Regions from separate parts of the Homo sapiens genome. Here region 2 is linked to region 1. The links come from fine-mapping of genetic effects on gene expression. A gene starts in region 1. The other region holds a variant in brackets. All regions are shown on one strand. Distances are from middle to middle.

Region 1 (5,369 bases):
CTATTTTACGAAAATGAGGAACCTTGGTCACTGAGAGGTTAAGAATGGGTGTTGCCTCATGGGTGCTGTTGGCATGTGGGGCAGGGAACTCTGCTTTGCCAGCCAATGCCCCTCCCGCCCCAGGCACCCACCGGTCATTGAGACCAGCGCGATTGCCCTGATGCATGTGCAGACGCTCCCTCCGTTGGGGCAGAGCCACCCTTAGTAGAGAACCACTGGTAACCTGGGGAGGTTTCCTGGCTGCTACACTGCTGGGTCAGGACTCAAACCCACGTCCTTCTTAGCAGGTCTTTTCCCAGTCACAGCAGCCCAGCAGATCCAGGACACCTGGGCTGGAGAAGGAGGCAGGGGTCTGAGCTCTTCTTTCCCTGAGGTTCTTCCCCCTCCCGGCATCCTAGGGTGGCTGGGGGTCGCTGCCTTCTTGCTTCCCCACCCCCTGAGCCCCTTGTCCCTTCGCCCGACCCTGGCCCCCATTCCTTATTTTGATGTTGCCTTCCTGGAAAGGGAGGTGTCGTCAGAAGTCAGAATGTGAAGCCCCGGGCAGCCGAGGGCAGAGGCAGGGGTAGGCTTGTGAGGCCTCCTGTTCTGGGAAGAAAAGGGCATCATGAGCCCAAAATGGGGCTCAGGGCTGTTGTCACCAGTGAGGGAACAGCACGGCTCAAAATGTGACAAATAACCCTGCAGGCGGTGGGGCCCCCGCTGCCTCCGCCCCTCCTGAAAACAGATCCCTGCCCGGCATGAATGGGAATGAAGCCCAAAGGCCACATCTGCATCCTTGTCCACGGGATGTGTGTGTCTTCCCTCCCTGGAGTGGGAGCTGCTTCTCACTTGTTTTTTTAAATTTTTTATTTCAATATTTTCTGGGGTACAGGTAGTTTTTTTGGTTACCTGGATAAGTTCTTTAGTGGTGATTTCTGAGATTTTAGCGCACCTGTCACCTGAGGATGGGTGCCAACTGCCCCCCACCAACCTCCGTGCCCCCTACAGTCCGCTGAGCCCTAGGACCAGCTCCAGAGTAGGCCCCACACCACAGGGTCCAGGCAACACACCTGTGTGAGCATGCACATACACACACACACACACCCCCCACAAACACGTGTGCCCCAAGCCTTTCCCAGTTATACCCCCCAACTTTGGGGAGACACTAGCCCCAAAGTTAATGAAGGACTCTGTCGTTAGGGGCTCAGGAAGAGTATTTCCTAAACCATGAGACTCCCAGATTTTGCCCCACTCCCCCCGGGTCAGTCTCTCTCCAGCCACCCTCACCAGCATGCGGGCCCATGGGCCTCAAGCTGACCTCAGGTGATGTTTATATTTCTGAGCTGTTTATTCCATGAACTGAACATCTGACAGCTTTTCAGAGAAATGTTTTTTCATTTGGAACATCTGGAAACAAGAAAGAACATCTGGGGCTGCCCGGAACGGGCTGTTCCTCGGATGAAACCTTAACCCTCCTGCCCCTGACTTCCGTGGCTCAGGTCCTGGCCTGCACCCCTTGAGAGTGGCCCCCACCTTATCAGGTCCGAGGCCTAGGCCAAGATCTAAAGAGGGACCACCCAGACCCTCTGCCTTCCAACCATGGCATGGGAGGTGGTTCTGCTTCTCCCTAAATCCAGACAGACCTGCCCCAGCACAGACTGGAAAACGGAGGGTTGTGAGGAGAGTGAGAGGTGGACAGAGGGCACCGACGATTTAGCATCTCTTCCTCTCCTGGGGGTCGAGGATGAGAGACAAAAAAGAAGCTGCCAGGAAACATAAAATTCAGAGGGCTCAGCTGCAGGGCTGAGGTCTGCAAGCATGCTGTGTACACTTGTGCATGTTGTGCCCTGCACAAGGGCATCTCTGAAGGGGCTGCATTGGACCCAGGGGCAGGGGCGCAAAGGTGAGTTTATATCAGTTCCTGAGCACTGTGGCTCCATCCAGCACTCTGAGGACAGGCAGGATACAGCTGGAGGACCTGAGGGCTCCCCCACACCAGCTCCTGTTCCCTGCCCAAGACCCCCTGGACCTGCAGACAACAATTCAACGCACTCAGAGTCCCACAGTTAAGAACTCCCTGAAGAAGCCCCCAGTGGCTGCGTGGTGGATTTTCGCAAAGCTGTCTCCACCTACATCCACCCTGTTTGGCAGCCCCTACATACTCTTTCACAGCATGAGGAAGGGAGGCCTCTCACCAAGACCTGGACTGAATCTTCTCCCAGTGGCTGCCACACTTGACCTGCTCTTGCTCCAGAACCTCTGTGGCTCCCATCCTCCACAGGGTCAACTTCCAACATGGCTGCCTGCACTCCAGCCAAGAGGCTCTGCTCTGGGCCCCTCCAGATGCCTGACCTGGGTCTGTGGCTGCCCTGTCCTTCTTCAGTGCTCCTCTTCCCGCTGGGTGAGGAATAGTTCAGGACAGAGGAGCTAAGTTCAGGTTCATTCATAGGACAGGTGCCTATTTCGCTCACGGCCCAGGAATAGAGACTTGCCGGGCTCGGCCCTTCGGGGAGTTGGCAGACGGCAGAGGGGAGGCTGGCTGGCCCAGGGGATGACCACCGGTGGGGTAAGCACAGACAGAGGGGAGCACAGGCTTCCCCCAGAAGACTGAGAGGCCCCCCAGAGGCATCCACAGAGGACCCCAGCTGTGCTGCCCAAGCTGGGCGACCGCCAAACCTTAGCGGCCCAGCTGACAAAAGCCTGCCCTCCCCCAGGGTCCCCGGAGAGCTGGTGCCTCCCCTGGGTCCCAATTTGCATGGCAGGAAGGGGCCTGGTGAGGAAGAGGCGGGGAGGGGACAGGCTGCAGCCGGTGCAGTTACACGTTTTCCTCCAAGGAGCCTCGGACGTTGTCACGGGTTTGGGGTCGGGGACAGAGCGGTGACCATGGCCAGGCTGGCGTTGTCTCCTGTGCCCAGCCACTGGATGGTGGCGTTGCTGCTGCTGCTCTCAGGTACAGAACCCACGACGAGGCCTGTGGGGTTTGCTCTCATCTCCAGCTGTCTGGGCCCTGCGGCTCTGCCTCCTGCTTGCTCCACCCTCCTCCTCTGTCTCTCACTCTTTACCGCCTGTCTCCCTCTCATGGCCCTGGGGCCTGGGTCTGTGGGTGTCAGCTGCACGTGGTGATGGGCTCAGGAGCCTGTGGCCCCAGTTCCTCTCCTGCCTGGAGAGCATCAGGCTGAGCTGGGCATGAGGAGCAAACCAGAGTTAGCAACCAGGACCGTGGAAGAACTAGGCTCAGGAGGAAGAGAGGCTGAGGGCGGTGCCTGGGGGTCGGGAGGGGAGAGGCTGTCCCAACCGGACCCTGGAAGATGCAAGATCCAAATGTGGTCCCCTCCTCTGGGAGGTGAAAGATCCTCCGGGCTGTGACTTTCTTCCTGTCTCTCTTTAAAAAAAAAAAAAAAAAGAGAGACAGGGTGTCCCTATGTTGCCCAGGCTGGTCTCAAACTCCTGGACCCAAGCGATCCTCCTGTCTTGGCCTCTCAAAATACTGAGATTTCCCTGTCCCTCCTGTCTCATTCAGATGCCTGCTCAAAGCCACCATGAGGGTCAAAGGCAGAAAGGGGGCTGGGGGCAGGGCTTCCGGTACCCCCACCCCATATCTGTCTCCCAAGTACTGGGGGCAGGGAGGACCGAGGGGTCTTGAAGCTGCTGTCATGGAAGGAGGAAGTAGCTCCGGGAACATAGAGGGCATGCAGGGGTGGGGCAGCCCAGGCCAGAGGAGGCCCTGACTGGCCCCGCCCACTTCCTCCCACCCAGCAGCTGAGCCAGTACCAGCAGCCAGATCGGAGGACCGGTACCGGAATCCCAAAGGTCAGTAGCCTCGCCTGCCGCTTCTGAGGGCAAGTTGTGTGCGACTATGTCCTGTGTCCGACTATGGTCCCTGTCCTGGGGGCGGTCCGCCTTCCCACCCTTGCCTGATCTCCCCATCCAGGATTCCCATCCCCAGGCCTCCTTAGGATCTCCTCTGAGCCCCACCCCCAGCCCACTGTCATCCTCATCAGACACATGCCCTCCAGCCTTGGCCACTGAAGGGCTGGGCTAAACTCTGGGTCATAGCAAGGGAGCCTGGGGGTTCCTCTAGGACTCAGGCCCGGGCCTGTCTAGCTGGGAATCTGGCTGAGTCTCGGGTGAGCCCTCCAGTGCAGGGTCACTATGTGAGGGGCTCAGGGATTCCCGGGCAGTGCTCACTAAGAACAAGGCAGTCGAAGCTGGAAAGAGGGTTCTGGAACAAGAAGTGGACCCAGTCCCTGCAGGAGGGAAGAGGGGGATGATAGAGGGAAGTCATGCAGGGAGGGGGTCGACTGAGGAAGGTCTCAGTTGACAGACTAGGAATTTGGCCTTTATCCCTGGAGGAACGGGGGAGACTGAGGATTTCAAGCCTGTGCAGGGCAGCCCAGTGAAAGGAGGGGCCAGGCCTGTGGGCCTCCAGGTCCTGGGGGTGTGGCCTGGGTCAGGCTGTTGTAATGGGCATAGGAAGGAATGGCAAGGTCCCAGGGCTCTTCCAAAGGAAAATCGAAGGGGAGGTGGGGCAGTCGGGAAGAGGTGGAGTCTGAGAGCTTGGCCGTGGCTTCTCATGTGGCTCAGCCTCTCACGTGGCTCTGCTTCCCAACTCCAACCTCAGCCTCCTGCCTGTCCCACACCCTGAGAAGCAAGGACTAAGCCCAGGGAGTCTGTGCCAGCCAGGGCAGGGGCCTGCTGCTGGGGCTGGCACTCAGGAAGATGCCAAGCGGAATGCTGAGCCTGGCCTTGGCACCCACAGGTAGTGCTTGTTCGCGGATCTGGCAGAGCCCACGTTTCATAGCCAGGAAACGGGGCTTCACGGTGAAAATGCACTGCTACATGAACAGCGCCTCCGGCAATGTGAGCTGGCTCTGGAAGCAGGAGATGGACGAGAATCCCCAGCAGCTGAAGCTGGAAAAGGGCCGCATGGAAGAGTCCCAGAACGAATCTCTCGCCACCCTCACCATCCAAGGCATCCGGTTTGAGGACAATGGCATCTACTTCTGTCAGCAGAAGTGCAACAACACCTCGGAGGTCTACCAGGGCTGCGGCACAGAGCTGCGAGTCATGGGTGTGTGCCAGGTGGCTGGGACGCTCCTGTAGCTGTCCGCCCCACCCTAGCCCGGCCTGCCTCTTGTGGTGATGGTCATGGCCCTAGAGCACTCAGGAGAGCCACTGGGACCTGAGGGAGCTGCCCTTGTAGGCCTAAAAGGTGGACTGTGGCCCAGGCTCACAACCCCACCCCTGTCCCCGCAGGATTCAGCACCTTGGCACAGCTGAAGCAGAGGAACACGCTGAAGGATGGTATCATCATGATCCAGACGCTGCTGATCATCCTCTTCATCATCGTGCCTATCTTCCTGCTGCTGGACAAGGTGATCAGGGGACGG
Region 2 (5,369 bases), 28 kb after region 1:
TAACTGAACTGCAGGGGGAGCCACACGCCAGAGACTGTCCACCCAGCTCCCCTCGGGTATAGGAGAATCCACTCAACCACTGCTGGTTGAGAATTAGAAAGATACTACCTGACTTTGCACATTTTAGAATATAAAAAGACCTTAAAGACCATCTGCTTTAAACTCTTTGATTTACCTACTGTTAGTCTACCTTTCAGCTCATCAACTTGGTGTGGACGGCAATTTCCGCTGCAAATTTGAGATGCCTAGGGTGTTTTCTAAACGATGCATTCGTGAGCCCTCACTCCCTGAGATTCTGATATAATTAGCCTGGAATGTGGTCCAGGCAAGAGTAGTTTGAAAACTTTCCCAGGTGATTCTATCATGTAAACAAGGTTGAGAACCACTGTGTTAGGGACCGCAAAGATGAGACCCATGTGTTCACAGCTGTTGTATTGGTGGAACAGGGAAAACGGAGAAAAAGGAGACGAGAGGCCTGGGCCAGTTGTGGTGCCACCTGCTCCTAATTCCAACCAGTCATCTAAAAAGTGTTTATCGTGAGCCAGTCACAGAAAGACAAATACTCTCTGATTCCAGTTAGATGAGGTACTCAGAGCAGTCAAATTCGTAGAGACAAAAAGTAGGATGGTGGCTGCCAGTGGCTGTGGGGAGGGATGGAATAGGGAGCCATTTAACGAGCACAGGGTTTCAGCTGTGCAAGATGAAAAGGGTTCTGGAGATGGTTGGTGGTGAGGGTTGCATGACGATGTCAATGTACTTGACGTGACCGAACTGTACACGTAAAATGGTTAAGATGGAAATGTTTATATCTTCTCACAACTAAAAATTGTTAATAGTTTCTTTTGTTTTTGTTTTTGTTTTTGAGACAGAGGCTGGAGTGCAGTGGTGGGATCTTGGCTCACTGCAACCTCCGCCTCCTCCCGGGTTCAAGTGATTCTCATGCCTCAGCCTCCTGAGTAGCTGGGATTATAAGTGTGCACCACCACACAGGGCAGATTTTTGTATTTTTGGTAAAGACAGGGTTTCGCCATGTTGGCCAGGCTGGTCTCAAACTCCTGGCCTCAGGTGATCCACCCTCCTTGGCCTCCCAAAGTGATAGGATTACAGGCGGGAGCCACCAGGCCTGGCCCTTAATGGTATTTTCTAATGAAAACTCTTCCTGAAGATAAGATTATCGAGACTCGCACAGGGAAGAGTTCAGCAGGCAGAGCTCCAGTCATCCTTGACCCCTGGCATAATGTTTTACTGACTCTGTCATTTTTTTGAATTTACCCTAACCTAAAATGACCACTTCTGAATATCTTCCATGAGCATTGTTGAAATACACATGGTTGGTTTTGTCCCTTTATACACAGTTGAGAGCAGAACTGACCCCTTCCTTTTTCTTCTGAATTGTAGGGTCTGGGCTTCTCAGCCAAGACAAGCTGACACTTTGCCTGGATGCTTCTTTAATTCAGAAGGCCCTGGAGTGCTGAGGCACACAATGAGTACCTCTGGGATTAGGGTCACCAACTCGTCCTGGTTTGCAGGAGACTTTCTCAATGTCAACACTGAAAGTCCCACGTTCCTTCCAGGAATCCCTCAGCTCAATGCAAACTCAGCTCACAGGACTGGTCACCCTATTAGTAGTCCTAAATCTTAGGGCACCAAACTGGGGGGAAAGTAGGGGAAGGAGCAAGAAAAAGACTAGAAAAACCGGAAAGCTGTGCACAGTGTATATGACCTTTGATGGCCCTCATGGTTATCATGGATTTCTGATTCTTGCTTTGAGTTTACTGTGATTATAATGATGTGCTTAATTACCACTAGAATTATCAGTGTAATAATAAAAACCAACAAATGTGAACACATGTCTCCAGCACCATGCTAGTTTATTACAAGTATTATGTCATTTCTTTCTAACTATAATTCTCTAAGGTAAATACTATTATTAATCCTATGGTAAGAAGTCCCACTAACGATGTAACTTATGCTTTCTCAGGTCTAGAGAGAAAGACACCAGAATGTCACCCTGACCATCCTTGAGAGCATAAATGGCCAGGCACTGTGGCTCACGCCAGTAATCTCAGCACTTTGGAGGGCTGAGGCGGGAGGAGGTCACAAGTTCGAGATAAGCCTGGCCAACATGGTGGCACCCCGTCTCTTACTAAAAAATACAAAAATTAGCCAGGTGTGGTGGTGCACACCTGTATTCCCAGCTACGAAGGCATGAGAATCGCTTGAGCCCGGGAGGCAGTGTTGGGCTGGGCCCATCA[A/T]GCCACTGCACTCCAGCTGGGTGGCTGAGGAAGATTCTCTCTCAAAAATAATAAGAAAGAAGATAAAATTTTGGAGTATTAAAGGCCACTCTTCCTCTGGAGATAATCAAGGTAGCTGCAATTTAAGTATGAGCTGGTTGCTTTAATGTTCAGAAAGAATATGATCAAAACCATTTAGAGGGTGGGGCCTCCTCCTATAGACAATGAAGGCAACTACCCTTAGAAGCTCTATTATACTGGAAAAGAGATATGAGATCCTTCTTGCTTTAAGAATCAATGAAGCCGGGCGTGGTGACTCACTCCTGTAATCCCAGCACTTTGGGAGGCCGAGGTGGGCAGATCACCTGAGGTCAGGAGTTTGAGACCAGCCTGGCCAACATGACGAAATCCTGTTTCTACTAATAACACAAAAATTAGCCAGGTGTGGTGGTGCACACCTGTAATCCCAGCTACTCCAGAGGCTGAGGTAGGAAAATTGCTTGAAGCCAGGAGGCAGAAGTTGCAGTGAGCCGAGGTCGTGCCACTGCATTCCAGCCTGGGAGACAGAGCGAGACTCCGTCTCCAAAAAAAAAAAAAGAATCAATGAGAAAGGCCTGCCTGATCTCTGGTTGTGTGGATCCTTCGGGAAGGAAAGTGAACAGAGGTTCCAAGTCTACAAGGGAAAAAGCCCAGCCTACTCTGAAGAGCTTTGCGGGACGGCTCATCCAAACTACTGAGCTCTAAGAACTGGAAAGCTGGAAACCCCAGCAAGAGGACACCTGCAGAGCTGGACCAGGCCCCGAAGAAGCAGATCATCCTCCCTCAGAGATCTACAGCAGGTGGGAACCCAGATCTGCAGACCCGCTTGGTTTGAGGGTACTGTGTGGGACCATCTGTCAACACTGACACCCTGTAGCAGTGAGAAGCAAAGGCAGCAGCCGGCTGAGCCTCCAGGCTCGCCCTGCTGGAACTAGAAAGTCCAAGTGGCCCCCTTCTTCCTCCCTTTTTGGTTTTGTTTGCTTTTGTTTTTGTTTTGTTCAAGATGGGGTCTCGCTTTGTTGCCCAGGCTGGAATGCAATGGCACGATCTCGGATCACTGCAACTTCTGCCTCCCACAGTCAAGCGATTCTCCTGCCTCAGCCTCCCCAGTAGCTGGGATTACAGGTGCACACCACCATGCCTGGCTCATTTTCCCCTTCCTTGTTGGATTCGCTGTGCTTCAAGGCACTGAGGCCATGAGGCAGGGTTTGCAGATACAGGATATCTACAGCCCTGATGCGACTGATCCTGACACCAAAATGGCTGTGGATCCCTGCATGGTGTGGCTGTATACTCCTGTCTCTTAAACCTGCTTCTTAACTTACTTCCCCAAATGCTCAATTCAGGGAAGGTGGATGATTTATATTAGACTCACATGATGAAGGAGCAGTAGCTCCACCTAGTGGAAACATTGAGGTTGAAAAGGTCATGTTCGGGGATGATGCTATTTTATAAAGTCAAGATATTTCGTGTCCCTCCAGGAAGCCTTCCTTGATTCGAGTTATGCTTTCTCTTAACAATCTGTTTTCCCAGTCATAGGAGTTCATGCACAAATGTAATCTCCTACTTGTTTGTCTTGCTTTCCTAATAAATTTGTGGAAGCCAGGAACAATGTTTTGTTCACCACTGTATCCCCACTGCCTTGTATGTGGTGAAACCAAAGGGTTACTTTTACACTTAATCTATAGCACCAGACTCAGGGGAGGTCTGGGAAGAATGGGAAAACGTTTTCCCTCTGCTGTCTGATGCCATGGTTTTTTCTAGCTGGTATCTGCAATTTGGAAAGCTATGGACCTCTCTCTATCTGGAAGTCTGAACTTTAGCTTTTCTTTTTGCTTGTGTTTCCTTTGTTTTGCTTTTGAGACAGGGTCTGGCTATGTCACCCAGGCTGGAGTGCAGTGCATGATCTCAACTCGCTGCAACCCTCCACCTCCCGCGCCCAAGTGATCCTCCCACCTCAGACTCTCAAGTAGCTGGGACTACAGGCACGTGCCACTATACCTGGCTAAGTTTTGTGTTTTTTGTAGAAATGGGGTTTGCCATGTTGCCCAGGCTATTCGCAAACTCTGGGGCTCAAGTGATTCGCCCGCCTCAGCCTCCCAAAGTGCTGGGATTACACGCTGAGCCACCGCCCCGGCCTGAATTTCAGTTTTGAAAGCAGTTTACATAGGCTGCCACCCTGAGCTAATGCACCCCCTGCCCCGGGCTGGTTGTTTATGCTATCAACACGGTATTTTTTCCTTAGAAATTGTACTTAAAGTTATAAAATGCAGCCGGGAGCGGTGGCTCATACCTGTAATCCCAGCACTTTAGAAGGCCGAAGTGGGTGGATCACGAGATCAGGACTTCAAGACCAGCCTGGCCAAGATGGTGAAACCCTGTCTCTACTAAAAATACAAAAAATTAGCTGGGCATGGTGATGGGCACCTGTAATCCCAGCTACTTGGGAGGCTGAGGCAGAGAAATCCTTGAACCCAGGAGGTAGAGGTGGAAGTGAGCCAAAATCACGCCATTGCACTCCAGCCTGGGCAATAGAGCGAGACTGCATCTGAAAAAAAAAAAAAGTGATAAAATGCAACCATTTGACATAACAAGAGCTTTCAGCAATGACACAGAAGGGAAGGGAACTGCATTTGGACATCATAAAACCACTTTTATTTTTACCATAGCAACATTCCAGTGAACATTTCTTGACTGACTTGGGAGAAAAGATCTGGTTTTGTGATTCCTCACGCCTTCTCCGAGGGTGAATATACTCTTTCCGAAGGACAGGGAAGGAGGCTGAACCATAAAATCATATGAACATTTTCACAAGAGGATTCCTCTTGAAGCTTCAAGGAAATTGTTTACAGTCAGAAAAAAATATGCACTTCTTGATGAAAACAGAGAGTAAACATTGCAACTCTAACCTAGACACCTATATGGGTAAAAAAAAGAAAACTGGCAAATGCGAACTCACAGTTGATCACTCTATGAAAAGGAATTCAGAGATGTTTGGAGCTCTTAACCTAAGAGGCCAATTTCATGGAAGAACTCTACCTTCTACTTCAGAGACAGAACACTGGGCTAGATACGATGCTTGTCTGGCCCGAAGTG

Alleles and levels. Positions count from the first base shown, and alleles are read on the strand shown. Sizes are in standard deviations (SD) of each study's normalised expression.
For the expression in esophagus muscle of the gene that starts at base 2,793 in region 1, A is the low allele of the variant in region 2 and T is the other (small effect, 0.38 SD a copy in GTEx).

Evidence for each region. PIP is the estimated chance that this variant, and not a neighbour inherited with it, causes the effect. A credible set is the group of variants that fine-mapping cannot tell apart.
Region 2: its variant is the best candidate, but not a certain one, in a credible set for the expression of CD79B in esophagus muscle (GTEx, PIP 0.76).

What each region holds. Positions count from the first base shown.
Region 1 is chr17:63,929,755-63,935,123 of GRCh38, reverse strand. CD79B (CD79b molecule) reads left to right here and starts at 2,793. Exons shown (of 6, transcript NM_000626.4): 1 at 2,793-2,929; 2 at 3,739-3,789; 3 at 4,739-5,050; 4 at 5,236-5,354. The coding sequence starts at 2,863. RefSeq lists enhancers at 1,138-1,542, 1,284-1,543, 1-1,543, 2,117-2,166, 2,177-2,286 and 2 more and a silencer at 3,874-3,943.
Region 2 is chr17:63,902,248-63,907,616 of GRCh38, reverse strand. No RefSeq gene overlaps it. Among named protein-coding and RNA genes, the nearest start is that of CSHL1, 6.3 kb to the left of the region's middle. The variant A/T (reference allele first, on the strand shown) is at 2,256.